Linked DNA regions of Homo sapiens. The protein of the gene in region 1 purifies or fractionates together with the protein of each later gene. This does not show direct contact. Each region holds a gene or a part of one and is shown in the gene's direction. Other genes may lie near its edges.

Evidence for each region.
Region 2: the proteins of DHX9 (region 1) and DICER1 purify together in Homo sapiens (co-immunoprecipitation; 3 studies listed by BioGRID and IntAct, with this or other methods). This does not show direct contact.
Region 3: the proteins of DHX9 (region 1) and DDX21 purify together in Homo sapiens (affinity purification with mass spectrometry; 2 studies listed by BioGRID and IntAct, with this or other methods). This does not show direct contact.
Region 4: the proteins of DHX9 (region 1) and EFTUD2 purify together in Homo sapiens (affinity purification with mass spectrometry; 2 studies listed by BioGRID, with this or other methods). This does not show direct contact.
Region 5: the proteins of DHX9 (region 1) and RALY purify together in Homo sapiens (affinity purification with mass spectrometry; 3 studies listed by BioGRID and IntAct, with this or other methods). This does not show direct contact.
Region 6: the proteins of DHX9 (region 1) and NCBP1 purify together in Homo sapiens (co-immunoprecipitation; 3 studies listed by BioGRID and IntAct, with this or other methods). This does not show direct contact.
Region 7: the proteins of DHX9 (region 1) and IGF2BP3 purify together in Homo sapiens (affinity purification with mass spectrometry; 2 studies listed by BioGRID and IntAct, with this or other methods). This does not show direct contact.

Annotation. Positions count from the first base shown.
Region 1 is NC_000001.11:182,876,722-182,881,282, forward strand, and holds part of DHX9 (ATP-dependent RNA helicase A), read left to right. Parts: intron 1-108; coding exon 109-182; intron 183-1,299; coding exon 1,300-1,452; intron 1,453-2,528; coding exon 2,529-2,689; intron 2,690-3,775; coding exon 3,776-3,887; intron 3,888-4,542; coding exon 4,543-4,561. UniProt on the Homo sapiens protein: Multifunctional ATP-dependent nucleic acid helicase that unwinds DNA and RNA in a 3' to 5' direction and that plays important roles in many processes, such as DNA replication, transcriptional activation, post-transcriptional RNA regulation, mRNA translation and RNA-mediated gene silencing.
Region 2 is NC_000014.9:95,102,030-95,105,529, reverse strand, and holds part of DICER1 (endoribonuclease Dicer), read left to right. Parts: intron 1-283; coding exon 284-459; intron 460-1,403; coding exon 1,404-2,184; intron 2,185-3,500. UniProt on the Homo sapiens protein: Double-stranded RNA (dsRNA) endoribonuclease playing a central role in short dsRNA-mediated post-transcriptional gene silencing.
Region 3 is NC_000010.11:68,954,980-68,958,969, forward strand, and holds the start of DDX21 (nucleolar RNA helicase 2), read left to right. Parts: upstream 1-1,190; 5' UTR 1,191-1,246; coding exon 1,247-1,333; intron 1,334-1,667; exon of another isoform or gene 1,668-1,769; intron 1,770-3,990.
Region 4 is NC_000017.11:44,854,446-44,858,687, reverse strand, and holds part of EFTUD2 (116 kDa U5 small nuclear ribonucleoprotein component), read left to right. Parts: intron 1-1,530; coding exon 1,531-1,613; intron 1,614-3,683; coding exon 3,684-3,770; intron 3,771-4,005; coding exon 4,006-4,132; intron 4,133-4,242. UniProt on the Homo sapiens protein: Required for pre-mRNA splicing as component of the spliceosome, including pre-catalytic, catalytic and post-catalytic spliceosomal complexes. Component of the U5 snRNP and the U4/U6-U5 tri-snRNP complex, a building block of the spliceosome.
Region 5 is NC_000020.11:34,080,911-34,084,208, forward strand, and holds part of RALY (RNA-binding protein Raly), read left to right. Parts: 3' UTR 1-3,298. UniProt on the Homo sapiens protein: RNA-binding protein that acts as a transcriptional cofactor for cholesterol biosynthetic genes in the liver. Binds the lipid-responsive non-coding RNA LeXis and is required for LeXis-mediated effect on cholesterogenesis.
Region 6 is NC_000009.12:97,643,575-97,648,135, forward strand, and holds part of NCBP1 (nuclear cap-binding protein subunit 1), read left to right. Parts: intron 1-1,542; coding exon 1,543-1,650; intron 1,651-2,036; coding exon 2,037-2,158; intron 2,159-3,917; coding exon 3,918-3,987; intron 3,988-4,433; coding exon 4,434-4,561. UniProt on the Homo sapiens protein: Component of the cap-binding complex (CBC), which binds cotranscriptionally to the 5'-cap of pre-mRNAs and is involved in various processes such as pre-mRNA splicing, translation regulation, nonsense-mediated mRNA decay, RNA-mediated gene silencing (RNAi) by microRNAs (miRNAs) and mRNA export.
Region 7 is NC_000007.14:23,467,102-23,472,246, reverse strand, and holds the start of IGF2BP3 (insulin-like growth factor 2 mRNA-binding protein 3), read left to right. Parts: upstream 1-1,755; 5' UTR 1,756-2,136; coding exon 2,137-2,311; intron 2,312-2,599; exon of another isoform or gene 2,600-2,671; coding exon of another isoform or gene 2,672-3,011; intron 3,012-3,704; coding exon 3,705-3,765; intron 3,766-5,145. UniProt on the Homo sapiens protein: RNA-binding factor that may recruit target transcripts to cytoplasmic protein-RNA complexes (mRNPs). This transcript 'caging' into mRNPs allows mRNA transport and transient storage.

The DNA of each region.
Region 1 (4,561 bases):
TTAGGACTTCTGTAATTTTCTTGTCATTTGTTACATACATAAGCAAATCAGTCCTTTTAAGTAACTAATAAGAATATTTTCTGGAGTGTAATTTTTCTTTCTTCACAGGTTATTTTGTCCACAAATATTGCTGAAACAAGCATTACCATAAACGATGTTGTTTATGTCATTGACTCCTGCAAGTAAGTTACTGGGAAACCTATTTGTCTGCTCCAGTGTTACTAACTGGAAACTTCTTACCAGTTAACAGAATCAAAAACACCTTATTTTTAAACTCCTGTGTTCTTAAATCTCCAAAATTATTGTGCATCTATATAGCATTATAGGTAATTGATAATTAAGAGTAATTATTGTTGATTACTGCAAATCAGTTACGGTAGAAAGTGACAAAGCTTGAAACTGTAACTGATGATTACTTCTCATTGCTCTTGGCTGCTGGTGTCTCACTTATTTCCCATTGGGTGTTTCCATTGATCACTGCCATACTATAGCATGCTGTTTGATGAATAAAGATGACCAGTGTTTAGCACATGACAAATATCCTACCTTGAAGGACACTCCTTTAAGGATTAAGGGTCTTCATTTTGGTATGAGATGAGCCTGGAAAAATATACCAGGAGACATTCTGTGTAGATACAGGAATTACATGGTAATTGATAAATTGAAAGGACAAAAAAGTTGAAACTTGGTTATATCTGGCCAACTTGTACCCCATGACTTCTCTTTATAATTCCTTAGTCTGTCCTGACAATGAAAACAATTTGCTGCCAACATCCATTTTAGGAAATGATGAATAGCATTCTGTGCCAATCCCAGTCATTTAGTGGCAGCTGTCTCTGTATGTAACATTGAAGGAATCTGAGGTTACTTGGGGGTTCAAATGGACCACACAGGCATCACTAGATACAGATATCCTAAAAGTTACACTAAACTTTGGAATAGAGATGACTTAAATAATTACTTTCTTTTGTGTATGTGCCATATTCCATTTAAATGCTTTGCATTTGTTAATTTATTTAATGTTTACCAAAAAAACTATAAGGTAGATAATGGCATGCAAAGTTTGGCCAAGGCAGTTCAGCTGATAAGTGGCAAGTGGATGTTACATTGCCTTTTAGTAGGTTGACAACTAGGAGTTTGCAGTCAGATTGCTGATTCTTACTTGTGCCATTCATGAATAGACATCACAAGTAGGTATGGCTTTAACTACATAGTGGAAAGCATTCACTACTTAGTGGATATATAATAGTTATTGATAATACACATGAGTCTTAGAATTAACCACTTTTTCCTATGTAGGCAGAAAGTGAAACTCTTCACTGCTCACAACAATATGACCAACTATGCTACCGTATGGGCATCAAAAACAAACCTTGAGCAACGGAAAGGGCGAGCTGGCCGAGTACGGCCTGGATTCTGCTTTCACCTGTGCAGCCGAGCTCGTTTTGAGAGGTAAGACCCATTCTTGACCTTTAGTAAGGGATTTTTGTTCTGTTCTCTGTAGGGACAGATGTGTGCAGTTATGTAAACCTGCCAATATAAGCTGATCTAAGTCTTGCCAGCCATGTTGGAATCAGGTGTAAATGTTTCGTAAGAATCTTCATCACAAATCATTTAGAGAATAAGCCAGATTTAGAAATATAGAGACCTAGATTTTAATATTATTTGTGCCTAATACATTGTATAACACTAAGTGGTTACTCCTTAGGCCTGCATTTCCCTCATTCTATAAAATATTAAGTTACTTAACCTCTCTTGTTTCCTCAGTTGTAAAAAGAATATAAATAATGCCTAACCCATAGGGTTGGTATAAGTATTAAATGATTTAATAATGTAAAATACTTTGAACAGTGTATGGCACATCATGATCTCCCAATAAGTGTTTGCTGTTGTTAATTTATACAGGTCAGATATCTCTTTTAAAACTGAAATGCTTGGGACCAGAAGTGGTTTTGGATTTTTTTTCTTGGTAATATTTGCATTGTATTTACCAGTCGGGCATCCCTAATCTGAAAATATGAAATCCAAAACGCTCTAATGAGCATTTCCTTTAAGTGTCATGTCAGAAGTCAAAAAGTTTTGGATTTTAAAGATACATCTATAAGAGCCTTTCTAGTGGCACTAAAATTACATGAACTAGGAAGGTGGGAGGTTGTAGAGAAATGTTAGTATGAGTTATCATCCTACAAAAAGTCTTGTTGTCGTTTTTAACCCATGTTTGTCAACAGGCAAGGCCTGAAGAGACCATGGGTGGAGCTAATAACATTCGCGATTTTGGATAATTTTTTCATTTTTCTTCTCAGCCTAAAAGGCTATCAAGCTGTGAGGATAAGTCAGAAACCACTATGCAACCAGATTAAATTTTGTCAACAGTGTGTATAGTGAACGATAAAAGGTCCGATGGTAATTGTAAAATAAAAGGATGAGGAAAAGGCAGCTCTGTATCCCTGATTACCTTGCTGCAAAAAGTTTATTAACATCTGTGTATACACAAGGAGGATGGTTATTTTATGCTTATTTTCTCTTAGACTTGAAACCCACATGACACCAGAGATGTTCCGAACACCATTGCATGAAATTGCTCTTAGCATAAAACTTCTGCGTCTAGGAGGAATTGGCCAATTTCTGGCCAAAGCAATTGAACCTCCCCCTTTGGATGCTGTGATTGAAGCAGAACACACTCTTAGAGGTACTTACAAATACAAACCTACTTGACGCAGATATTAATCATACCATCTGTCTTGTTCTGGCAGATAACACTTACAAATGAATCAAGATGATGAAGATGTAGTCAACAGGGCTGTGATAATAATAGTAAGGCCTCCAGTCTTACCTTAGATAGTTAGTATAGTCACTGTTCTAATGAGCAATGAGAAGGAAGAAAGGGACAATGTGAGTCTTTAAAAAAGAAAAGAAAACTTAAAAAGGCATCTCTTAACTATGTACTAAAGATCAGAACATAACTTACTCATGATACCCACAGTATTTCATATGAATCTCTTACAACTTTTTTTGTTTTTTTGAGACGGAATCTCGCTCCATTGCCCAGGCTGGAGTGCAGTGGCGTGATCTCAGCTCACTGCAACCCCCACCTCCCAGGTTCAAGCCATTCTTCTGCCTCAGCCTCCCGAGTAGCTGAGACTACAGGCATACACCACCACACCCGGCTAATTTTTATATTTTACTAAGACAGGGTTTCACCATGTTGGCCAGGCTCTTCTGAAACTCCCGACCTCAAGTGATCCACTCACCTCAGCCTCCCAAAGTGCTGGGATTACAGGCAGGAGCCACTGTGTCCAGCCTGGAACATTTATTTTTTCTTGCTAAACTTGTTAGAGGTACAGTGAAAATTAAGGGCATTGGAGCTAGATCTGAATTTGAATTTTGAATCTAGCATTTATCTACTATGTAACTTCAGAATTTTCTCTAGATTTTATTTTTTTTAAAACATTAACAGCTGGGTATCAGACTTCTTATGGCATGTAGAAACTTACGCTGCTATTATAGTTAATACTGTATTTATAGACTTCATATGAATTGTATTTGTTTTTATAACCTACAGGATTTAGTTGTAGTACCTTTATGTTGGGTGCTCCAGATTTTGATTTTGTTCTATTTTTGAGTACAGAGAATTGTTGGCCGTAGACATGGTATTAGCGATTGGCTTGACAAAAGAGGAACTCTAAACTGTCTTAACCTTAATTTAGAGTAATGTTTTGTCTGCCTAAAATTAGTGTTCATTTGTTTCTGCTCACAAAGAACTATCTCCCCACAGAGCTTGATGCATTAGATGCCAATGATGAGTTGACTCCTTTGGGACGAATCCTGGCTAAACTCCCCATTGAGCCTCGTTTTGGCAAAATGATGATAATGGGGTGTATTTTCTAGTAAGTGCTTTGTTTTATTTCTCTTCGTTAAGTGGCAGAATAATTTCAGAATCTTCTCCTCCCTGTAAAAGCAGTATTGGCTCAGATAGACAAAAAAAAAATCCTAAATGTTCTTCAGGGAAGTAACATACCTAGATATTGAGAGCAGTGTAACACTAAAAAAATGAACAGTTCCAGTAGGTGGATATCTGGGCCCAATATGGGGAAAAGGGCACTGATTTCTCAAAAGTTAAAAGCAAGCAGGCCAGGCAATGTGGCTCACACCTTGAATCCTAGCACTTTGGGAGGCCAGGGTGGGAGGGTCCCTTGTTATTAATAGTTGGTCTTGAAAGAGCGGTGTCAGGAAAAGAGGTTTATTTTATCAGAAAATGTTGAAGATTAAGAGATTTGGTATGATGGGGAAGAGAGAATATAAAAGGAAAAATATACTTGGTCATAATTTATGATAAATATGTGGCCATTAGAGCATCAGAGCATTTTTTTCTTTCTGATTCTGAAGAGAGCAGCTATAAAGTTCTTTGTTAAGCCAGTTTCATTGCAAATAAAAGTAGAATCATAGCCATAAAGACTGCAACCCACAGTCGACAGTCCTACCTGAGCTGCTGGCAACAACATTGTGATCTAGTCTGGATTTAACTGTCTTTGTGTATTTCAGCGTGGGAGATGCTATCTGT
Region 2 (3,500 bases), on another chromosome or scaffold:
GTTTTAATTAGTATTATGTGTTGAATGTTATTTGAATGTTCTTTTTGGTAAGTATTGAGAGTTTTGTTTTTATACTTGGCCCATTAATATATCACAAAATCATTCTCATAAATCCTTTGATAAATCCCATTTGGCCTTAGAGGATTATTTTTACAAATATTTTTTAAAATTAAGTTTTACTAGCATTTATGATTTTCTTTATCCATTAGTGAAATTGGTCTTTTTTTTTTTCTTTTGTGTGTGCGCTTTGTATTTATCTGTCCATTTTTCCCCTTACTTGAAGATACTGGTTCCAGAACTCTGTGCTATACATCCAATTCCAGCATCACTGTGGAGAAAAGCTGTTTGTCTCCCCAGCATACTTTATCGCCTTCACTGCCTTTTGACTGCAGAGGAGCTAAGAGCCCAGACTGCCAGCGATGCTGGCGTGGGAGTCAGATCACTTCCTGCGGATTTTAGGTATGCCTGTGCAGTCAGCCAGAAAGAACACAGATCATGAGATCCTGTTTGCAAAAGAACAGAATTAAGTTAAAATTGTATATAAAATAATTCTTAAAAGAGTAAAAAGAAAATAATGGATATCTTATGTCTTGTCAAGTCTCAGAGGGAGATGAGAATCTGAGGTCAGAAATAACCATTACTGCTTAAGCCATAACAGTTGGAGTGAGAATGAAATTGTTCTTTGTTACTGCATCAGCATTTTCAGTCTGTTTTTTCTTTTAAAAATCCAAATATATGTTAAAAAGCAATAGCCTTAGCATGTTCTTTGTCTTCATTATTTTCTTCCCATTAGTAAAATCTCTGCATTCTAAAGAAACTGTTGGCTTAAACACTCACATTAGTTCTGGTTATCCAATTGGCAATATCAAGACTGTTCTAGGGATTGAAGGAATTTTAAAATATAATAGGAATAACCACAATATTTATTGGTTAGTTGCTATAGTGCCAAACACTAGCTTAAATGCTGTACCCTGTGTTAGTTAGCTCATTTAATCATTAAGACAGTGCTATGAGATAGGAATTGTTAGCCCTTTTCTCAGGTGCAGAAGCTGAGGCACAGAGAGTTTATGTAAGTTGCCCAGAGTTACTCAGCGGGTTAACCAGAGTGCCTGGGATTCCAACCCGTGAAGCTAGGCCCCAGGTCCTGCAGGATGCCTGCAAGCTTCGTGACCTTCTTAACTACCACACCTAGAGTCTAGGGCCAGGGATTAAAGCAGTAGATAAAACCATGTCCCACTTTATAATTTACACTGTAAATTAAAAATTTGGAAACTTGCTTCTATTCTAAAGTTTAGGAGTACATTTTTGGGATCTTTGTTTTTGTTTTTAAATTCAAATTGCTGTTGCTCTCAGCCTAGCTGTTTTGAAGAATCTGATGTAAAGTTATAAAAATGTCTTTGCAGATACCCTAACTTAGACTTCGGGTGGAAAAAATCTATTGACAGCAAATCTTTCATCTCAATTTCTAACTCCTCTTCAGCTGAAAATGATAATTACTGTAAGCACAGCACAATTGTCCCTGAAAATGCTGCACATCAAGGTGCTAATAGAACCTCCTCTCTAGAAAATCATGACCAAATGTCTGTGAACTGCAGAACGTTGCTCAGCGAGTCCCCTGGTAAGCTCCACGTTGAAGTTTCAGCAGATCTTACAGCAATTAATGGTCTTTCTTACAATCAAAATCTCGCCAATGGCAGTTATGATTTAGCTAACAGAGACTTTTGCCAAGGAAATCAGCTAAATTACTACAAGCAGGAAATACCCGTGCAACCAACTACCTCATATTCCATTCAGAATTTATACAGTTACGAGAACCAGCCCCAGCCCAGCGATGAATGTACTCTCCTGAGTAATAAATACCTTGATGGAAATGCTAACAAATCTACCTCAGATGGAAGTCCTGTGATGGCCGTAATGCCTGGTACGACAGACACTATTCAAGTGCTCAAGGGCAGGATGGATTCTGAGCAGAGCCCTTCTATTGGGTACTCCTCAAGGACTCTTGGCCCCAATCCTGGACTTATTCTTCAGGCTTTGACTCTGTCAAACGCTAGTGATGGATTTAACCTGGAGCGGCTTGAAATGCTTGGCGACTCCTTTTTAAAGCATGCCATCACCACATATCTATTTTGCACTTACCCTGATGCGCATGAGGGCCGCCTTTCATATATGAGAAGCAAAAAGGTAAGAGATGATTTTTTTATTTTGAGCAGTTAATTATTCAGTGTGCCTGAAAGTGGTTTGCAGTGTTGGATAATCTCAGAGGATGAGAACGTATCATGCTCAGAAATTGCTACACCGGCCAAGCACAGCTGCTCCCTTGTTCTACCAGGGCCAGCGAAAGCCTGTGGCAGAACTACCTGGCAGTTGATGAGTATTGCTTTACACCAATCCCACACTCAGGTTTTGGGGCTTAGCTGATCTCCACGTGCCTTACTTTTTGATTGAAAGTCAGTTCAAAGGAAGCTATGCAAGTGTGTACACCCCTTGATCCTGAGGGGGATATGAAGAAATGTGCATTGTAGTCAGTCAAGGAGCTTCTGCTTTGTTGAGTTAAACATTTATTTGAGAGGGTACGTCTTGGCTTACAAGGCATACAGACATGAGTAAGACACAAGTCTTGTGGAGGAGCTCATCTCCAAAGTTTTGGAGAGTGGAGCGGAGAAGAGTAACAAGCTTCACAGAGCTTGGCTGCTCTCCAGTGTGAAGAGGGTGACACCAGAGTTCTGAGTAATTAACGCTCGATAGCTCAGAGAAAGGGCGGGCTCTTAAACTCAGCATGGACTAAGACTTAAGAAAAGGAATGAAGGTAAGATATTCAAGTTATGGGGGAAAAATGGAAAAAAGTCTCACAAGGCAACATGAGCCTCCTGGACAAATACCTTAGAAAGCTGCTGATCACTTGCAGCACTCAGAAGGAAGGAGCATCACTGTTGAATCAAGGATGGCATTAATGGAGGAGGCAAGTTGACAGTGCATAAGCAAAGTGAACAGATGGCAGAGCATGTCAGCGTCAGGGAAGCAGCCGTGGCAGCAGTCAGAAGTGTGGAAATACCTGAGAAAAGGCTTGAAAAGGCAGCTGGGGTGAAGCTGTATCGTGGAAGGCCTTGAATGCTGGGCTAAGGAGTTTGCACGTGTTTTGAATGTTGTAGGCACTGTTGAAGGAATTTAGAGCAAGGAACTATTAATGTTAATAAAGTGGTAGTTTAAAATGATTAATCTGGTAGCAGAATGTAGTGTGAGTTGAAAAGCATATCCAAACCAACAGCAGAAGCAGAGAATGGGATAGAACTAGAGTTCTGGTAGAGAGGAAGGGGCTGAGGTGAGTGAGAATTTCAGAAGAAATAATTTTAGCTAACAATTTAAAAGTGCTTACTCTGCACTACTCTAAAAGATAACCGTATACGCACACACACGTACACACACCCACATATATACACATATATGCATATAAACCTAATTTAATTTTTATAATTCTGAGAGGTAGAAACTTTTATTTT
Region 3 (3,990 bases), on another chromosome or scaffold:
GAACCTGTCTCAAAAAAATGAAATAGATAAAGACTGGGCGCTGTGGCTCATGCCTATAGTCCCAGCACTTTGGAACGCTGAGGCGGATGGGTGGATAACCTGAAGTCAGGAGTTCGAGACCAGCCTGGTGAAGATGGTGAAGCCCCATCTCTACTAAAAATACAAAAATTAGCTGGGTGTCGTGGTGCAGGCCTGTAATCCCAGCTACTCGGGAGGCTGAAGGATGAGAATCGCTGGAGGCAGAGGTTGCAATGAGCTGAGATAGCGCCACTTCATCCAGCTTGGGCAACAGAGCGAGACTCCGTCTCAAAAAAACAAAAAGGCCGATTTTCAATGTCAGATATTATTCTATCCCATTTTTGAAATTTATTTTTTCTTTTATATATATGAAATATTTTATTTATATATTATATATGTGTGTGTATATATAGATATATAGACATAGGGGTTTTGCTGTGTCGCCAGGGCTAGTCTTTAAGTCCTGGCTTCTTTGGAGGCTGAGGCAGGAGATTCGCTTGAGCTCGGGAGGCAGAGGTTGCAGTGAGCCCAGGTCACGCCATGGCACTCTCCAGTCTGGATGACAGAGCGAGACTCTGTCTCAAACCCACAAGACCTCTCTCTCCCGCTAGTCTATAAAGCTTCTTGACGATAAGGCTTTTGTGCTTGTTAGTGAATACTAGTCCTGTTTCTCCTACCTGACACAGTGAACGCTCATAAGATGTTTGAGTGCTCGCATGAATGAACGACCAGACCCGACTGAATTATTTTTTTTCTTCAGGCTCCTGAGTCTGGTCGACACTTTCAGAGTAGACGTTTCCAAGAGATGATTAAGGACACACATCCGCGCGTCTGTACGTGCAAACTCGAGCAATACAACATAAAGCACTGAAGATGGCGCCACTCAAAAGCAACTAGAAGCCTTCATTTATCAGGCTGGGGCTAGGGAAAATCTGGCCAGTGTTGAAGAATACAAAGCTAACCTTTGCAATTCCTTGCGGTTCTACCGTTCCGTAGGTGCCTTCTAGACCAAGGGCCGCAAGTGGTCAATTCACTAAATCCAACCACAGTCACAGGCCGCTGCTTTGAATTTACCACGCGGAAAGCAGCTTTTCCTGTGCTTCCTGCTTCCCCCGGAAGTGCCTTGCTACGGGAAGTGACGAGAGCCGGGTGGACCCAGGGTGGGGAACTACCTCTTCCTCTCCACGCGGTTGAGAAGACCGGTCGGCCTGGGCAACCTGCGCTGAAGATGCCGGGAAAACTCCGTAGTGACGCTGGTTTGGAATCAGACACCGCAATGAAAAAAGGGGAGACACTGCGAAAGCAAACCGAGGAGGTGAAACGGAGGGACCTGGGGCCAGGAGGGACGCTGAATGGAGCGGAACCCCGGGGTGCGGGAGAAGTGCCCGGGCTGGGATCGTGGGAGCGCGCGGCGGATAACAGCGCGTCCAGACACCGGGCGTGGGTCTTGGCGGGCGGTCGCCCAGGAGTGGTGCGCTCCCCGGGCAGTGGACGCGTCGTTTGCCCGACCGAGCCAGGTCCGCCGTGCGCTGACCTCTTCCTCTGAGCTTATAGGCATCCACAGGTCGGAACTCTGGTAGAGAGGCCCTGTTGGAGCTCGGGAGAGGGCCGGGTGTCCCACGTGGTCCCCGGCGACTTGGGCGCGCCTCACACAGTGCGCAGAGTTGGACCTTCAGTCAGGCTCCACGTTGTTGGCTAAGACAGAACTCCCGGCATGAGCGTGCGCGAAGGAAGTTACACGTCAAGTCAAAGTGGGTACTGGAGGCCGGGTGCGGTGGCTCACGCCTGTAATCCCAACACTTTGGGAGGCCGAGGCGGGCGGATCATGAGGTCAGGAGTTCGAGACCAGCCTGGCCAACATAGTGAAATCCCGTCTCGACTAAAAAATACAAAAATTAGCCGGGCATGGTGGCGCGCGCCTGTAGTCCCAGCTACTCGGGAGGCTGAGGCAGGAGAATTGCTTGAACCCGGGAGGCGGAGGTTGTGGTGAGCCGAGATCGCGCCACTGCACGTCAGCCTGGGCAACAGAGCGAAACTCCATCTCAAAAAAAAAAAAAATGTGGGCACTGGAGCTTTAGAGTAGACTGGAGAGGTCTTAACTTCATCTGCGCACGTGGGCCGCGTCTTTAGTGACTTTTTAAACTCTCGTAAGGGAAGTAGAGTTTGTTTTCCGGTAAGCCGCCCTGAGAAGATGACGTAATTCAGTTATTACGAAAATCTGTTTTACAACTGTTTGACCCACATGAGTTGACTGGATTTCCCATGGAAATGTAAAGGCATGTGTTGCGGTGCTGAGTGTACACCATATTTTTTATATAGGCCAGCAGTGTGCAGTAGTTTTAACCTTGATAGCTGACCGGTGCTTTGCTGTTGCTTCCTAGTGATTTAACTTGTGACTGAGTCTCTGTTCTGAGATCAAGTCAGTGGGAACAAAGATTGTCCTTGAACTTAGGTTGTACGCTACTTAGAATTAACTTTCCTTGTTGGTTTCTCTGTCTTTTGATATGGAGTTCTTACAATAGCAATATTTTAGAATTGTAGGAAGCCGCGGCAGATTTGTACTCAGGTGCAAGAAGGTCGTGGTCCTGGTTTACATTGCATCAGTCAATTGCGTTCAATTTGGCATGCTCAAATCCAGAGGTACATGACCAAACTCTGTTATATTCCAAAAGAGACCACCAGGATGGGAAACTCAGTCTTATTTGGTGGAACCAAGGGATGAAAACGAATAAAATTTTGGAAGGAGACTAGCTTGTTTTTTGTTGGCTAGGAGATTATTCTTAATCTATGATTTGAGAACAGAGACCAGGCCTGAAATTTCCGGGAGGCAGAATTCAGCGTAATATGTACTTCCAACATTGTTCTGGGGCTCTGCCAGAACAGGCTTCTAAGGAGGCTACAACACATGTCTAATTGTTTTCAGTAGTATGAAAAGTTGTAGAGGGTCAGAAAGTTCAAATAGGAGCCACAGTCATCTGTCTTACTTGGTTCTAAGGTGTCACTCCTTCCATATTCTTGTAACTTATTTATTTTATTTTAAATTAAGTACATCTTTTTTACACATGAGTGATAGACTGTGAGTTTTTATAACTTTTTGTTTCATAAAGTGTCTCTTTATTTTATTATTATTATTTTTTGAGATGGAGTTTTGCTGTCGTTGCCCAGGCTTGTTCTCCATGTTGGTCAGGTTGGTTTCAAACTCCCAGCCTCAGGTGATCCGCCCACCTCGGCCTCCCAAAGTGCTGGGATTACAGGTGTGAGCCACTGCATCCTGCCCTTTTATTTTTTGTAGAGACAGAGTCTTACTGTCACCCAAGCTAGAGTGCAGTGGCATGATTATAGCTGACTGCAGTCTTGAATTCCTGGGCTCAAGCAATCCTCCCACCTCAGCCTCCTAAGTAGCTAGGAGTATAGGTGTGCTGCTACACCTGGCTAATTAAAAAAAAAATTTTTTTTTTTGAGACAGTCTTGCTGTGTCGCCCAGGCTGGAGTGCAGTGGCATGATCTCAGCTCACTGCAACCCCCGCCTCCCGGGTTCAAGCAGTTCTCCTGCCTCAGCCTCCCGAGTAGCTGGGACTACAGGTGCGTGCCACCATGCCTGGCTAATTTTTTTGTACTTTTAGTAGAGATGAGATTTCACTGTGTTAGCCAGGATGGTCTCCTTCTCCTGACCTCGTGATTCGCCCTCCTTGGCCTCCCAAAGTCCTGAGATTATAGGCATGAGCCACCGCGCCCAGCCTAAATTTTAAACTTTTTCAATAGAGACGGGGTCTCGCTATATTGTCCATGCTTGCCTGGAACTGCTGGCCTCAAACAATCCTCCTGCCTTGGCCTCCCAGAGTGCTGAGATTACAGGCATGAACCACTGCACCTGGCCCTAAACTGTCTTTGTATAAATTCATTTGCTCTTGTAAGATAGGCAAAGTGCAGAATTCCTGTTTTGGAGTTAGAGGCTGCAGTGAGCTATGATCA
Region 4 (4,242 bases), on another chromosome or scaffold:
GAGGATTGCTTGAGCCCAGTTTGAGACCAATCTGGGCAACATAGTGAAACCTCGTCTCTACAAACCAGCCCAGTGCAGTGGCATGTACCTGTAGTCCAGCTACTGGGGGGCTTAGGTGGGAGGATCACCTGAACCTAGACTGTCAAGGCTGCAATGAACTGTGATTGTGCCATTGCTCTCCAACCTGAGCCTAGGAGGTCATGGCTGCAATGAGCAATCATTGTGCCATTGCTCTCCTTTTTGAGATGGAGTCATACCCTGTCTCAAAAAACTAAAAAATAAAAATTAGTCAGGTGTGGTGGCTTGCACCTATAGTCCCAGCTACTCCGCAGGCTGAAGCAGGAGGATTGCTTGAGCCCAGCAGTTCGAGGCTGCAGTGAGCTACGATCATGCCACTGCACCCTAGCATGGGTGACAGAGCAAGACCCTGTCTCAAAAAATAAATGCATTGAAAAATAATAAAACAGGCCGAGCACGGTGGCTCACGCCTGTAACCCCAACACTTTGAAAGTCCAAGGCGGTTGGATTGCTTGAGGTCAGGAGTTCAAGACCAGCCTGACCAACATGGTGAAACTCTGTCTCTACTAAAAATACAAAAATTAGCCAGACATGGTGGCGGGCACCTGTAATCCCAGCTACTCAGGAGGCTGAGACAGGATAATTGTTTGAAACCGGGTGGCAGAGGTTGCAGTGAGCCAAGATCGCACCATTGCACTCCAGCCTGGGTGATAGGGCGAGACTCTGTCTCAAAAAAAAAAAAAAAAAAAGGAAAAAGAAAATAAAGGCTCCCAAGCCAAAGTTATTCTTGGTCCTTTGTTAGGGAAATAATTGCACAATTAAACAATTAACCCATGGGTGGTGATTAGGTCTCAGAGTGGGTGGTTTCAAGGAGAGGGTGGGGACTGTCTCTCCCAGATTCTTTGTCAAGCCTTGATGTAGCCCCTCAAACCATGTGTTGCTTGGCCTCCTTGTCCTAGTTGAGTCGTATTTTCTCCAAGGCCCTGTGGAGGACCCTCAATACCCCTCTTAGACTCCTCTACTGATGTATCTAGGAAGGAGGAAGGATTGGTGTCATAGAAAACACTGGGTTTCCTGGGCAGCAGACCATGTTGGGGCTTCAGGGCAGAGCTTCACTCAGATGCTGTGGGTTGAGAATGACATGGGTGCACGCCAGTGGGTCTCAGCACCAGCTCTGTCAGACCCATGGGGGTTGTTCAGTGAATGGTGGTAGATGGCTGAATGGATGCTGAGAGCTACCTTTGAAGACTAGAATTAAGGCCCTAGTTTGATACCCCACTTACTCTTGGCTCAGGAATCTAATTTCTTTACTACAGTAAGTTTTCTTGGGCTTTTTGGTGATGATTTGGACAGCTCTTTTAACCTGCTGTTGTACTTATCACTTGTGCTGATTAAGGCAGTTGGGGTTTTCACAGAGGTAGTGTCAAGGGAGCTTCTGAATTCCCTTAGGTAAATGGTTGCCCTTCCAACAAAATTAGACCTCGCTTCAGTAATTTATTTTCTGTTTCCCAGGTGGCTGACCCAGTTGTCACGTTTTGTGAGACGGTGGTGGAAACATCCTCCCTCAAGTGCTTTGCTGAAACGCCTAATAAGAAGTAAGCTGGGAGCACAGTGTCCCTGGGACTGCAGCCTCCTGGACACTCTCTCTCCTTTATCTTCCACCTCTACCCCCACCATGAGCACTATGCACATAGAGACCTCTACAGCTCAGAATAGGGGGTGCTTACAATACTTGAGTTTCACTCCAGCCCTCTCAGCCCTTCTGCCTTTGAACACAATGACATGGGATTATTCGCCTTGGGTATTCCCAAGAGGAGTTTCATAACTGCCACTTTGTCTCTATAAAATGACTATCTTAAAAGTTTACTCCAAATCTTACTCACTTTTTGTTTTTTTGTTTTTTTTTTTTTTGACACAGGCTGGAGTGCAGCCTCAACTTTCTGGGCTTAAGCAATCCTCCCAAGCAGCTAGGACTATGGGCACACACCAGGCCATCTGTTAATTTTTTTATTTTTTGTTGTCCAGACTGGTCTTGGACTTTTGGGCTCAAGTGTTCCTCCCATCTTGGCCTCCCAAATTGTTGGGATTACAGGTGTGAGCCACCATGCCCAGCTTAAACCTTACTTTTTTTTTCTTTTTTTTAAGACAGTCTCGCTCTGTCGCCCAGGCTGGAGTACAGTGGCACGATCTCGCCTCACTGTAGCCCCTGCCTCCCAGGTTCAAGCAATTCTTGTGCCTCAGCTTCCCCAGTAGCAGGGATTACATGCACGCACCACCACACCTGGCTAATTTTTTGTATTTTTAGTAGAGGTGGGGTTTCGCCATGTTGCCCAGGCTGGTCTCGAACCCCTGACCTCAGGCAGTCCGCCCGCCTCGGCCTCCCAAAATGCTGGGATTACAGGCATGAGCCACCACGCCCAGCTTAAACCTTACTTTCATAAAGACCAGTAGATTGAAATGAAAGAAAGATGAGCCCTTTGCCCTTTTTGCTCCACCTTGCCCCTGATACTGTGGCTTTTTTTTTTTTTTTTTTTTTTTTGAGACAGGGTCTCACTTCGTCACCCAGGCTGGAGTACAGTGGTGCCACCATGGGTCACTGCAGCCTCAACCTTCCGAGCTCAAGCGATCCTCCTACCTTAGTTAGCCTCCCAAGTAGCTGGGACTACAGGTGTGCTAACCACACCTGGGTTTGTTTTTCTTTTTTTTTTTTTCTTTTGAGACATAGAGTCTCACTCTGTAGCCCAGGCTGGAGTGCAGTGGCTCGATCTCAGCTCACTGGAACCTCTGCCTCCCGGGTCCAAGCAATTCCCCTGCCTCAGCCTCCCGAGTAGCTAGGACTACAGGGAGTGAGTGTCACCACACCCAGCTAATTTTTGTATTTTTAGTAGAGATGGGGTTTCACTGTGTTGGCCAGGCTGGTCTCGAACTCCTGATCTCATGATCTGCCTGCCTCAGCCTCCCAAAGTGTTGGGATTACAGGCATGAGCCATCGCACCCGGCTGGCTAATTTTTTATAGAGATGGGGTCTCTTGCTTTGTTGCCCAGGTTCTGTTTGTTTGTTTGTTTGTTTGTCTGGGGTTTTTTTTTGTTCTGTTTTGTTTTTGAGACAGAGTCTTGCACGGTCGCCAGGCTGGAGTGCAGTGGCACAATCTCGGCTCACTGCAACCTCCGCCTTCTGGGTTCAAGTGATTCCCCTGCCTCAACCTGAGTAGTTGTGATTACAGGCATGTGCCAGCGCACGCCACCACGCCCAGCTAATTTTTTGTATTTTAGTAGAGATGGGGTTTCACCATGTTGGCCAGGGTAGGCTCGATCTTCTGACCTTGTGATCCGCCCACCTCGGCCTCCCAAAATGCCGGGATTACAGGGGTGAGCCACCGCGCCTGGCTGTTTGTTTTTAAGAGGCAGTATGTTGCTGTATCACCCAGACTGGAGTGCAGTGGTGTGAGCCATAGCTCACTGCAGCCTCAAATTCCTGGGTTTCAGTGATCCTCCTGCCTTGGCCTCTCAAAGTGCTGGGATTACAGGTCTGAACCACCACGCTTGGCCCCTGTGGCTTTCACTGATGTCACTTCCTCAGCTGTCCGTCTTGTTACCCTTTTCTTAGTAATGCCTCTTCTGCTGTTCTGTTAGCCGTCCTTACCACCCATTTCCATTCTGACCAGGAACAAGATCACCATGATTGCTGAGCCTCTTGAGAAGGGCCTGGCAGAGGACATAGAGAATGAGGTGGTCCAGATTACGTGGAACAGGTGAGAACAGGGCTCTGACGCCAGGGTCGAAAGGAGGCAGGGATGCCACAGTTTAACTGCCGGGTCTCTAAGAGCACACATCTTTCTGGGGAGCATTTATGTCTTTGCCTTTGCTCTTGTTCTGGGCACAGTGGGTAGGATGAAGTGACTGTCTTCCAGGAAGGGAGGGTCTGTGGCTCCAGGACCAGCAATCACAGAGCTGGCTGACAGCTCCATTGTCTCCTCCCTTCCCCAGGAAGAAGCTGGGAGAGTTCTTCCAGACCAAGTACGATTGGGATCTGCTGGCTGCCCGTTCCATCTGGGCTTTTGGCCCTGATGCGACTGGCCCCAACATTCTGGTGGATGATACTCTGCCCTCTGAGGTACAGCAGAACTGATGGGAACTGGGTGGCGGTCTCTTACCTCTGGAGTGGAAGAAACTACAAAGTGTTCTTTTCCCAAAAGTATCTTGTGTCCTCTGGTGAAGGACAGT
Region 5 (3,298 bases), on another chromosome or scaffold:
AGCGTACTCCAGTGACAGCAATCAGTAGGAAGTTTGCATCCGGAGACACGCAGCCTGTCTGCCCCTGTCTTGGGCCACCCGTCTAGACATTTGTTCTCTAACAATCAGCCGGGTTCCTTCAAACGTGTGCTGCTTATACATGCTCATTGTGTACTGCTAATGTCACCTACTTCCCCCTTCATTCCCCACAATGAATGGATCCATTTTCCCCATGTTCAAGTTCCCAAGAGAGAATCGACTGCCACTGTAATTTTTTTTCCTAATCACTCATAGGTTACAAGTACCTACCCTGGTCCAGTGAACTGCGGGATTCATATGTGGCCACTTAGGCTGGTCTCGTTGGTATGGAGCTGTGGGAGGGCAGCACCCAGAAATAGGCTTTGTTCCAGGCCTGGCACGTACTCCTCCTGCTCCTACTTTCTCTACCTGGGAAATAGCCGCTCAGGACGAAGCTGCTGCTGTGGTGTCGCCACCTCTGAGAAGTCTCCCAGACCCTCCGACTGCTCTTTAATTGCCTGTTCTCTCCTCTGGAAGCCTTCCCCCAACACAGAAAAATTCAATCCCATCATCAAAAAGGGCTTTAGGTTTTCCCTCCATCTTTACGTGTTGATCAAAGTTTGCAGATCTGCTGGAATCCTTATTGAAAACTCCCCATTTCAAACCAACCCGGTCTACAGCCTCCAGGGAAGCTTCCTCCTGGGCTTTGGCTCCATGTTTTGGTAGAGGGTGGAGGCTTTGGGCAGTGCTCAAACTCCACCGGGAAGTCTCTCTCACTGAGCAGCCCTCCTGCCTGTCATCCTGGGCAGGCGAGCACTCTGAGGCCCCAGTGTAGCTCTGTGCTTTGATATTCCCAAGCTCTGCTGGGGCCTGACTAGGCCAGCCCCAAGGTGGCCAGAGTTCTGGCTTCATACCTGAGCCAAAAGCCCCAATCCATGCTTGGCCATTGCCTGAGTATTAGCTGCCCCAGGGGGATCACGGTCCCCATATATTTGCTTGCCATGGACCCTGGGCAGCAGGGAGAGAGTAGAGATTTGTCAAGAGCCCATGGTGGAGGCTGAGGCCCTGAGGCCATGAGATGCAGGCATGGGGTGAGAAACAGGCCCCTTGGAATTGGGCTGGGCCTTGGCCCAGCTTAGTCAAATCAAAAGGCTTCTATTTGGAGAGCTGAAGAGGGTGTACAGAGGAAGGGGCTAGGTCTGCAAGGAGTGCCTCATCTCCCTGAAGAGCTCTCAGTGGAACATACTTCACCCATCCATGTACCCACATCTTTCCTTGCCCAGAAGGCGAGAGCCAGCTATAACAGACCCATTTCAATACCCTGGCAAGTCATTACTGCCCTTAGCTCTTGGTGTCCCCATCTGTGAAACATGGGGGACAGCTGCTAGCCTGGATTGGAACTTGGGCAAAGTCCAAAGAATGGGATTTAGAGCTGAATGAACCTCACACTGAGGGCACAATAGCACTAGGCACTGCCCCCAGAGCCTAGTGCTATATGCCTGCTGCAGGTCCTACCCAAGCATGCTTTACTGAGGAACTCAACGTTTCAGAGCTTGAGGGTCAGGTTGATCATGGGCTTGTGACCATAGGCTTCCTTAGTATGCCAGGCTTGGAGAACCGTGAGAAAAGCAGGGAAGATACCTTCAAGGGTAGCAGGCATCAGCTCTACTCACCTTGGCCCATAAGGCTTTGCCTGGTCATGCTGGCACCGGGTCATATGCTGGACAGGGAGAACGAGAGTCCCATCCTGGAACTCCAGAAAAGCCCCTGGATGCTCCAGCCCCTGGGAAAGCACACAGCCAGGCCCTTGGGTGGGAGGTTGGCTTCTAACAGTGCATACACATGCCCTTCCTCTGAGTCGGGGCAGCAAAAACATCCATTCCGCTGCGCAACAGTTGTCATTTTTCTAACATCTGAAAACTCCAGAAGGAGATGGTGATAAATGTGGTACCGGATTCTGCCTAAAGGATCAGTCTTTAGATGTTTTCAGATTGAAAGCCTCATTTGTGATCCTCACAGCCATCTTGAAAGAATAGAGCAGCCAGTGGGTATACTGGATTGTGAGCTAAGAGGCCTGGGACTTTCCCCCTGTTGCTGCCAGCCAGGTTGATGACCCTGGGCAAGTCTTTTTCCTTACCAGGTCTCAGTTTCCTCAGCTGTAAAATGAGAGGTTGATCTGGATCAGGGATAGTAAATGGGCCTTTGTTCAGTTACTGACTGTTGTATAACAAACCACCCCCAAATTTAGTAGCCTTAATAAACATTTATTAGCTCCTGAGTGAGTGGCTTGGCAGTTTGGGCTGTGTTCAGTGTGGTGGTTCTTATCTCATCTGGGCCCTCGTGTGGCTGAAGTGAGCTGGCAGATCAGCTGGGGACTGGCTGGTCTCAGATGGCCTCGCCCGCCTGTCAGGTGGTTGGCTGGGCAACTGGGCCACACGTTCCAGCATCTAGCAGGCTGACCCAGGATTCTAGACATCATGGCTGAGTTCCAAAAACCGCAAGAGAAGACAAGCCCAGTATGCGAGTGCTCTTGAGGATATTGCTATGACGTATCTTTTGGCCAAAGTAAGTCACATGGCTAAGCCCAAATTCTTCTTAACAGGAGGAGCTTCAAAATATGGCCATATTTAAAAAATCTACCTCAGGACTCATTTCACTTGCCAACTCAGAACTTTTAGTAGCAGCTGCCTGGAGTGCCTTTTGAGGATCTGCAGCAATTTTCAGACTGTTTGGAAATACTGACATGATAGTTTGGCAGTTTCTCTTATGAGCATGGAATTCAAGTGTGGGCACGTGAGCGTCAGGTATTTGCCATCCCTGGCCAGGTTGACCCGTAAGGTCATAACCTGCCCCATAGGATGTTATATGCAGTAGGCCTGTCTGACAAGACCACAGAAATAGAGAAGGCAAAGCAGAGCAAAAGATTCTGAGCCAGGCATCCTTGGTTTTCATCCCAACCAGATCATTGATTGATTGAGGTTTTAGGCAAATCAAAATCCCTCCACCAGTAGCCAGATTCTTCATAATAAACTTCCTCCATAACAGTAAACCATTTCCTGAACACCTGCTGTTAAAAAGCACATTTTACATTTACTTAATCTCCACAACCACCCTCAGTAGGTGTAGTAAGGACTTCTGGTTACAAGTTACAGAAACTGAATTCAGTCCTGCTTAGTGGGAGGAAGTTTATTGGCTCACAAATTGTAAAGTCCAGGGATCTTCAGACATGGGGACTTGGGTTCAAAAGCTGCCATCGAGAATCCGGTTAGCCAGGCATGGTGACACGTGCCTGTAGTCCCCG
Region 6 (4,561 bases), on another chromosome or scaffold:
ATAGCCTTCAGATACCTTACTAGGAAGTGCCTAAATTAATGCATCATTCATACCTCCTTTTTTCTGCCCTCTCCCCAGCTCATACAGTGGCCACTGTGTACTGAATAACCCATCTAGAAAGCTGAGCATTAATTTTTGTCTTCCCTTTGCCCTCTCGTACCATAGGTGTTCCCAATCCCTGTCAATTCTGTCTCCCTAATTTCTCTCAAGTCTGTCCTTTCTTAGTCTCCAGGGCCTCTAGCATAGTTTATGCCTTCCTCCAGATGTTCTTAATAGCCTCTTAACTGATCTTTTTGCATCTAGATTCTCTGCTTTTCACTTTGTGTTCTACAGTGGCACCAGACTGGTCTTTCTATAACTAGGCTCTGCACATGTTGGTTACTGGTTAAAAAAACCTTAGTTCCTTCCCATTGTCTACAGTGAGTGGTCTTAAAAGCCTGGTGCACAAGATGATTCCTTGGGTTTCAGGAAGTGAATATTAAGAACTCTTATTTATCTTAAGTGGAAATGAAATTAAACCTTACTAATAATACATAGATTAATGGTGATCCAGTGTATATCATAAATACATATGTATGTGTTGAAGATATGTGATCAAATTCTTTTTTACTGAGTACACAATCAAAAAAGTTTGGACACCCATCAGGCTATAGGATTAAAGTCCAGACTCTTTAGCCTGACCCTTTATGGTTTCCCCAGTCTGTTTCTCTATTCTTGTCTCCCATATGCTCCCCAGCAATATCAAAATAACTTGCAGATCCCTAAACACACCTTGTTTTTGAACCTCTATGCCTAGACTGCCCTCCTTGCTCACTACTTGAGGCTGTTGCTATCCTTTATGACCTAGCCTAATTGTTACCTCCTTTGTGATGCTTTCCCCAACTCCCTTTGTCATTGTTCCTAAAAAATGCTTAATTTGCCTTTTAGTGTGGGAGTCATTCCTTTGTATTGAGATTGTGCTTGTTCCACTAGAATGGGTCCCCTAACAGTGACTTTTAGTAGTGTTTAGCAATAGCACACTAAGCACACCCAATAAATATGTGTTCTGTAATTTCCATTTCTGTAATTCAGTGAAAATTACAGCCAAACAGAAAAGGAGATTATAGGTTGAAGTAGCTAGAATATTTTACAATCTGGATTCTTGATGTAGTATAGCATAGAAACGTATGAACTCACAGATTACTGTCCTTTATATAGTCTTTGTTACAACTTCTCAATTCTGCCATTGTAGCACAAAAGCAACCATAGACAATATGTAACTGAATGAGCGTGGCTATTCCACTAAGTTTACTTATGGGCACTGAAACTTGAATTTCATGTAATTTGTATATGTCATAAAATACTCTTGATTTTTTTTTCACGCATTTAAAAATGTAAAAACCATTTTTAGTTCCCAGCTATGCAAAAAACAGGTAGTAGGCTAGATTCAGCCCTTAGGCTATAGTTTTTTAGACCAATAGTTTAGCCTATACAAGATTGCTTATTTTGTAGTTATTATAAAGAACATTTAGGTTTAATAGCAGAAATTGTTTGCCCCAACAGGTCCGTTTTTTATCTGATCTTGTGAATTGTCATGTGATTGCCGCCCCATCAATGGTTGCTATGTTTGAAAATTTTGTAAGCGTAACTCAGGAAGAAGATGTACCTCAGGTAAGAGAACCCCTCATGCTGAATCTTGAGGGGTTCTTGAGGGGTTACTGAATCCTGGTACTTCCATATAGTACCAGGAATTTTTCGCTGATAACCCATTAGCAATAAAGAAAAAAATAACAGCAGACTATCACACTTTAAGTTCTTACTATCTAAAAATTAAGCTGACTGGCACACTGGTGGGTTCTCATAATATCTGTATGTTGATTTAAATGATGCTGTCTAGTAAGATTAGAACTAATATATCTAGAAATGCTCTGTATAAACCAGATGTCTTATTTAAGTCCTATTAAATAGCTTCCATAGGATTTCATTCAAGAATAAATAAAATATGAATGAATATAATTAAAGCATATTTTAAACTTAACTTTTTAAAAATCCTTTAGGTGCGACGAGATTGGTATGTGTATGCATTTCTGTCATCTTTGCCCTGGGTTGGAAAGGAGTTGTACGAAAAGAAAGATGCAGAGATGGACCGCATCTTTGCCAACACTGAAAGCTATCTTAAGTAAGGGCACAGCTCATAGTACTCTTTGTTGCTTAGGTAAAGGATATCTTATATCAGTGATACCATTTGAGTTTCTCAAAAATAAGCTGTAGAGTTCCTGAAGGTATTTTCTAGGTAATCCTGTTCTCCTGCTGTTTTAACTCACTGAGACCTCAAAGTAGTCAGATATGGTTTGCTTACTTTTGCCAGTGCAAAGGACAGTTGGCAATATAGCTTCTTTTAAGCTGCTTTTATATGTTTGTTTATAAAAGACATAAAACACCCTAGTGCAATAGTTCCTCAAATATTAGTGTGGATAAGAATTACCTGTGGTACTTAAAATACTCAGACCCCAACCCCCAGACCTGATAAATTATACAATTTGAGAGAGAGGTTTGGACATCTGTATTATTAACACATTTCACAAGTGGAGAACCACTGTCCTAGCACATACAGTATATTTAGTTCATGTAAATTAATCTTAAATCAAGCTCTTAAAACAGTGGTCCTTAACCCTCCATCCAGCCAGTACTTCTTAAGTAATATGACACATTTCAATTAAAATAGTCACATGTCTTCCCATTACTCATCTCTCCTAAGCCAATGTAAAAGCTTGGTTTATATTGTTAGATACAATAATAATAAATAGGTCTTTTTAGTAAATTTATGCTTAACTATCCAGCAACATGGTAATGGTTATGTGGCCCTTAGGTTTTTACAGATTGATTTTGTTGTTAAGTTTCATTTTCTCTTTTTTAAGTGCTTTTTTTGGATAACTGTTAATAGCTACTTAGTTGGTTATTAAGTAAAGTTAAAAGAAGCTTAAAAAATAAGAATCTTTTGGCCGGGCGCAGTGGCTCACGCCTGTAATCCCAGCACTTTAGGAGGCCAAGGCAGGTGGATCACCCGAGGTCAGGAGTTTGAGACCAGCCTGGCCAACATGGTGAAAACCCATCTCTACTAAAAAATACAAAAATTAGCCGAGCGTGGTGGTGGGTGCCTGTAATCCCAGCTACTCGGGAGGCTGAGGCAGGAGAATTGCTTGAACCCAGGAGACGGAGGTTGCAGTGAGCCGACATGGTGCCGCCACTGCACTCCAGCCTGGGCAACAGAGTGAGACTCCGTCTCAAAAAAAAAAAAAAAAAAAAAAAGAATCGTGTGTGTGTGTATACATATCCTTTCTCTTTTTTATTCAAATGATAGCCCAATATACACACTGTTCTTCACTTGGCTTTTTTTTTTTTTCTTACTATAACTTGGATTTGTTGCATAAAAATACTTAACTCTACTTCATTCTTTTTAACAGTTGTAGGGTATTTCACTTTTTAATGTACCATGATTTCCGTAGTCTCCTGTTGGTGGACGTTTAGGTTATTTTCAATCTTTTGCTCTTATAAACAATGTTTCAGTGAATATCTTTGTGTATATGTTTTTATGTACATGTGCAAATATATTTATGGGGGATATAAATTTTTAGAAATGGCATTGCCGAGTTGAGGGTTCTAAACAATTTTGATAGATTTAGTCAAATTACCTTCCAAAGAGATTATACTTTCCCAAAGAGATTATATCAGTTAACCTCTTTGTCAACAATGTTTGAGACTGAATCTTGACCTGCATCTTGATGATACACAGTACATTATCAAAACAGTTGATATCTGCCACTCCAGTAGGTAAAATGTTATTTCATTGCTTTAATTTGCATTTTAATAACTGTGAGGGTGACTGAGCATCTCTTGTTTTTAAAAGCCTAAATGTAGATTTTCATTTTTATCTTTAGAAGACGCCAAAAGACTCATGTACCCATGTTACAGGTATGGACTGCTGATAAACCACATCCACAAGAAGAGGTAAATGGATTTCAGTCCCTTGTGATACAAACACAGTCAGCTCTTGAATAGATTCTTATCTCTGTAAGATACTCAGACCATTCCATTTTACCCTTTGACTGTGTTTCTACATTTCATGATAGTTCCTTCTCATAGCTCAAGGTGTATGGTAGGTCTTTAATAGATGATAGAATGTAATTGAAATATTCCCTTGTTCTTTGGAATGCCAGCTATTACAGAGTTGACATATATTTATTTAAATGCTTAATTTGAAAAATGTCAAAACAGACAGTTCCAAACAGGTAGACTTTGTAAGTAAAATAAAAACAAAAACTTAGCACCTTTTTTTGTACCATCTTACAAGTTAGCTTACTTTTGTATCCTGTATTTTAAAGGGTAGTGATTTTTTCATTTTGTCTAGTCAAAATGTTAATTATATTAATGATTAAAAATTAATCTGTCTTTAGTATTTAGATTGCCTGTGGGCCCAGATTCAGAAATTGAAAAAGGATCGCTGGCAGGAACGGCACATCCTAAGACCTTATCTTGCCTTTGACAGCATCCTGTGTGAAGCACTGCAGCACAATCTGCCTCC
Region 7 (5,145 bases), on another chromosome or scaffold:
TTAAAAGACAAAATGTAAATACTCTTTATATCATGCAACAATTCCCATGTTTAAGTCTACCATTCATCTTTTAAATGAAAAATACACATTTTAAAATGCTAACAACGGTTTTGACAGAGAAGCAAGGCTGTATCAATTACCGAAGATGTTTCCAGTGTAAATCATAATATTTCCTCTATTCAGGATACCTTTTTTCTACCAGTAAGAGTACCAAGTCATTAAAGATTCTTGTCTATATTTTCATGTTATATAGAATTTCTTTCACTTAAAAAATTAGAATTTTCTATCTTTTCAATAGAATACCTGTTAAAAATATACCTGTTAAAAACACACAAGTATCTGGTGCAAATGAAACCTTTGAGTGGAGTACACAATCTTTAAACGACAGTTGGAGATTCCACTAGAACCCCAGCACTGCCTTCGTTTCCGTATTGCTCGTCTCCAGTTCACATTTTGTTGGCCCACAAGGCTCCACCGGGCCCAAATCCTCCCCCGACAACCACCATTGTACTCATTACATATAGAGAAAATTATGTATGGCTCTCATGGCCAAATCCAGGCAGAAAAGAGGCAGAAAGAGACTCGAACAATTTTTCAAATGCGAATACCACCTAGGGGTAATGCACGACGGTCTTCCAGTTTTAAGTCTCAAGTTCTCCAACTAAAATTACTTAAATAAAAGTACCAGCCTACTCCACTCCTCCCCCTTTAAAAACTACAGGAAGAGAGGGTTTCCCTTTACCGACTTTTCCCACTTTGACTTCTCTCCTCCAGCGGCCCAGGCCCCCGACGACCCCAGCCCCTAGCCAGAAACCTCCGCCCCTGCACTCCCCTCCCCCACCAGTGGCCAAGCCCGCCCCCGGCCTCATTTATCCTGGAGCCTTTTCTGAATCGCGCAACCAATGGCAAACGCGAAGCCGAGAGCCACCGCGAGCGCAGGCGGAGGCGGAGGAGGTGTCGCCCAGACACCCGCCCAGGACGCTGCGGGATCCCATCCCCCACCACTCCGGGGCCGGGCCGCCCCCACTCGCGCGGTGCCCAGGGCCCGAGAAGGGCGCACGGGGTGGGGCGCGTCGCCCGCCTGTCTTGCCCCCACCCCCTGCCCCCCTCACCCACTCCCCCACCCCTCCTCGCAGCATTTCCGTCCATGCCAGCCTTAGAAACGTGCCTGCGGCTTTGCTGGGGTTACACTTCTAATGCCATTAAAGCCACCAGGCGAGTTCGGGATTGTGACTCTGGTTTTGTTGTTAATAACCTATTTTGAAAAATCGAATGATTAAAACTACGGTAACTAGCGCTGAGGAACTGCCTGTTAGTACCTCTGCCCATTTCCTCATTAAAAAAAAAAAAATCAATATTCCAGCCCTCCCTCCCAGGATCCGCCCAGACCAGATAACCCTTTACAAACTCGAGTTGTGACCGTCAGCGCCCCGCTTGGTGCCGGCTGCGGTTCCTTTAGCATTTTCCTTCTTCCTCCTCCCCCTTCTCAGAGTCCCTCTCCCAATCTCGTTTCCCCTCCCCCTCTTCCTCTCGCTCGCTTTTTTCTCCGAAACCCACTCTAATTGAGGCTCTGGGATTCCTCACGTGAGACGTTGATTTGTAGTTTGAACACGTGGCTCATTCAAAAAGCCGGACACTCGGAGCGGATTTTTTCCGCCTCCTGCGCCTTCCTCCCTCCTCCTCCTCCTCCTCTCCCCTCCCTCCTGCCAGTCACCCTTCTGGGTTTTTTATGGGGAGGCGGCGCCTGCCTCACGTAGTGTGATATTTTCACAGTCCGCTGGCCGAAGCCAAAGGGGTTGGGAAGGAAGAGACAAAAAGTAGTTTTTTCCCCTCCTCCTCCTCCTTTCTCTTGCTAATCCCGCCTCCTCCTAAGACTTAGGAAGACTGGTGGATGCGTTTGGGTTGTAGCTAGGCTTTTTCTTTTCTTTCTCTTTTAAAACACATCTAGACAAGGAAAAAACAAGCCTCGGATCTGATTTTTCACTCCTCGTTCTTGTGCTTGGTTCTTACTGTGTTTGTGTATTTTAAAGGCGAGAAGACGAGGGGAACAAAACCAGCTGGATCCATCCATCACCGTGGGTGGTTTTAATTTTTCGTTTTTTCTCGTTATTTTTTTTTAAACAACCACTCTTCACAATGAACAAACTGTATATCGGAAACCTCAGCGAGAACGCCGCCCCCTCGGACCTAGAAAGTATCTTCAAGGACGCCAAGATCCCGGTGTCGGGACCCTTCCTGGTGAAGACTGGCTACGCGTTCGTGGACTGCCCGGACGAGAGCTGGGCCCTCAAGGCCATCGAGGCGCTTTCAGGTGGGCCCGGGCCTGGCCCCACCCGGGCTCTCGCCCCAGCCCTGCACCGCCCGCCCAGGCCCACCGGGTGGCTCCGCGGGCCCCAGGCCCGGCGCGCTGGGGGAGCGGGGGTGAGGCCTGAGCGCCCACACCCACGCGCGTGGGGGCCGGGGCTCTCCTCAGCTCCGGCTCCCACTCCGGCCCGCGGCTCTGCTTCCCCGGCCGGGGTTTGCTGGGTGAGGGCGAACGCGCTGTCAAGAAAGCCCCGGCGCTGGCTAAGGGGGGCGCGGGGCTGGGGGAGGCGCGCTCCCCCGGCGCCCCGCCCGGGCCCAGGCGCGTGCTCCAGGCCCCGGCACGCTGGGCCTCGGGGGCCGAGCTAGAATGCCCGCCTGTGCCTCGTTCCTTCCTGCTTTCCTCGGTCGTTATTTACGGCGCTGTCTGTGCTGCGCCCCGAAACCCCCGGCCGTGGAGAACGGAAAGTGGCCTCGACCGTGCTGCCGAGTGAGACCGCGAGGCTGGTGCCTCGCACAGGCGGCCCCGCGCTTCCTCCCCACCCTGTGGGAGGAGAGAGTGTGTGCCCGGTTTCCCCGTTCCACCTCCCCTGGTCCGACGAGCGATAGGGGCAGGTGGGCGGGGGCGGCTGGTCGCCTGGAAGGGAGTCGCCGCCACGCACCGGCCGCCCGCCGCTCTCCGGGCCCTGGCGCGGGGCTGCGGCCTCCGGGTATGGCTCCGCCAGGGCGAGGGACGGTGCCGGGCGGAGCAGGACGCCCAGGGGGAAGGCTGCGTTGGGGTCCCCATGGGAGCCCCGTGCCTTTCGGCTTCCCTTTTAATCAATTCAGACGTGGTGCGGGCGCCTCGCCGTCCTTCGCGCCTGGTTCAGCCTGTGCCGAGCTGCGCCTCTGCCAGTTCTCCCGTTCGTGGTCTCCCCTGCCGTCCCCGACCCTTTCTCGCCACTCCCTGTCTTCCTCAAGCCCACCGCTGAGTGTTCCCGGCGGGTCTGGGCTGAAGCAGAGGGCAGGGCCAGGGCGCCCCCTCCTGAAGAAAGCCAGGGGAGCCCCCTGCCCCGAGTCTGCCCTGTGGAGCGTGTCCAGGGCGGTGAGAGGGTGGGCCGCGTCCCTCTTGCGGGCCTCGTGGTGTTGGTGGCCCCCAGGGGTGGGTGGGGGAGGCTTGGAGACTGGACTGATACCCAAGTAGTGGGCCCGCCAGCGGACCCTGCTCCCCAACCATCTGCGAGTTAAATGCCCACGCCGCTCGAGGGGGTCGGCTTCTCCCTCCGCCTGGAGCCGCGTCCGGGCCTCGGGGGCCCTTCGAGGGCCTCAGGAGGCCATTTGTGTCGCCGCTTGGGCTGTGCGGGTCTTCGGGCAGGGAGAGCCGCTGAACTCGGCCGACCGTCTCACTTCTTGTGTGTCCGCAGGTAAAATAGAACTGCACGGGAAACCCATAGAAGTTGAGCACTCGGTCCCAAAAAGGCAAAGGTGAGCTGCTGCTTCTGTTTGCCCCGATTCTGTTCTCACTCCGTTATTGGGTGGAGAGACTCAGCTGAGAACTTCTTGTCCTCTGGTGCTTACCCCCTGCCGTGTGGCGTGGTGTTCCGGTCTTTAATCCTTGCTTTTAAGTTTATGGCGGGGGTGTGTGTGTTGATGATGCTGGGCAGGAATTGAAAGCTTTTCTGTGGCCTCTGCCGCGGGATTATGGTTATTGGTTACAAAATCTCTCGAAAGCTCACAGCTGAATGTCCTCGGTCCGAGCGGGTCAAATTGCTCCTACGGGAAATGGGTCCCAACAAGCAGTTTGGGGGGTTTGCAGGGCTTGGGAAGCAGCGGATGATTCCCCCACCCCTCCAGGAGCAGGAGAGGCGAAAGCAGCTGCGGACACGCGGGGGTCCCTCCTTTCCTTCTCTGTCCGGGGTTGGGAGGCCGTGGGCGCGGCCGAGTGGAGAGGAATTTGCCTCTGCCCTGTGAGCTCGCCAGGGGTATTGGAACGCGTGCGTAAACGCTGGGGCCTCTCTGGCCCAGAAGTGCCTTTGAGTCACTCCGAAGTTCTACAGGTTCCTGCAGTCAGCACCTTTGTCTCCCCGCTTTCCACCCCACTCCTCCTGGGTACATTTTTGCTTACAACCACCAAAAGATGAAGACAGGAAGATTCGTACTACTTAAGGACGGGGATTTCTCGTCTCCGAGATCATGTGTGTAGTATGTCGCTTTACAGAATGTTTATAGACTGTTTTAGCCTCTGAAGCATTTTGGAGACATGGCTCTTTCCCTTTTTCTTTTTCTTATGAAGCCTTATGGAGCAGTGGAGACTCCTTTCCTTTCGCTAGAGCAGGCCGGATTCCGGCTCTATTTTTTTGTTTTGTTTTGTTTTTTAAAACCTTCAGCCAACTCACACCATAGATTCCGGCTCTAACTGCAATTGGAAAGGCACTGCTCCCTCCCAGTCGCACCGGGGTGGGCCTCTAAGCCTTTCTGGATTTTGCATGGTGGGGTTAGGGTTTCTGCCTGCCCCTCTCCCATCCCCCCAACTCCCAACCTGAGCCAAATAATAAGCTGAAAGTTAATTTAAATCAGGGCTGCGTGTATCTGGTTAGATATTGGTGAGAGAGTGTGTGCTGGAGAGCAGGAGGGTTTGCTATGCATTTCTCTGGTGCTGTGCAGAAATAGATGGCTACAAAACATCTCATCTGTATGCCTGTGTAGATTTCAGCTCTCTTCCCAGGCAAAGCATTTTCACAAATCTTGTTTTTAAGGATGAGTTGGTTTGGATTTTTCTTGTTCTCATACTTAAATTTCATTAAGATAATTGAAAGGGATTTGAGTGACCTGATAGATTTAGTTCTAGTTGGGAATTTTGGTAGG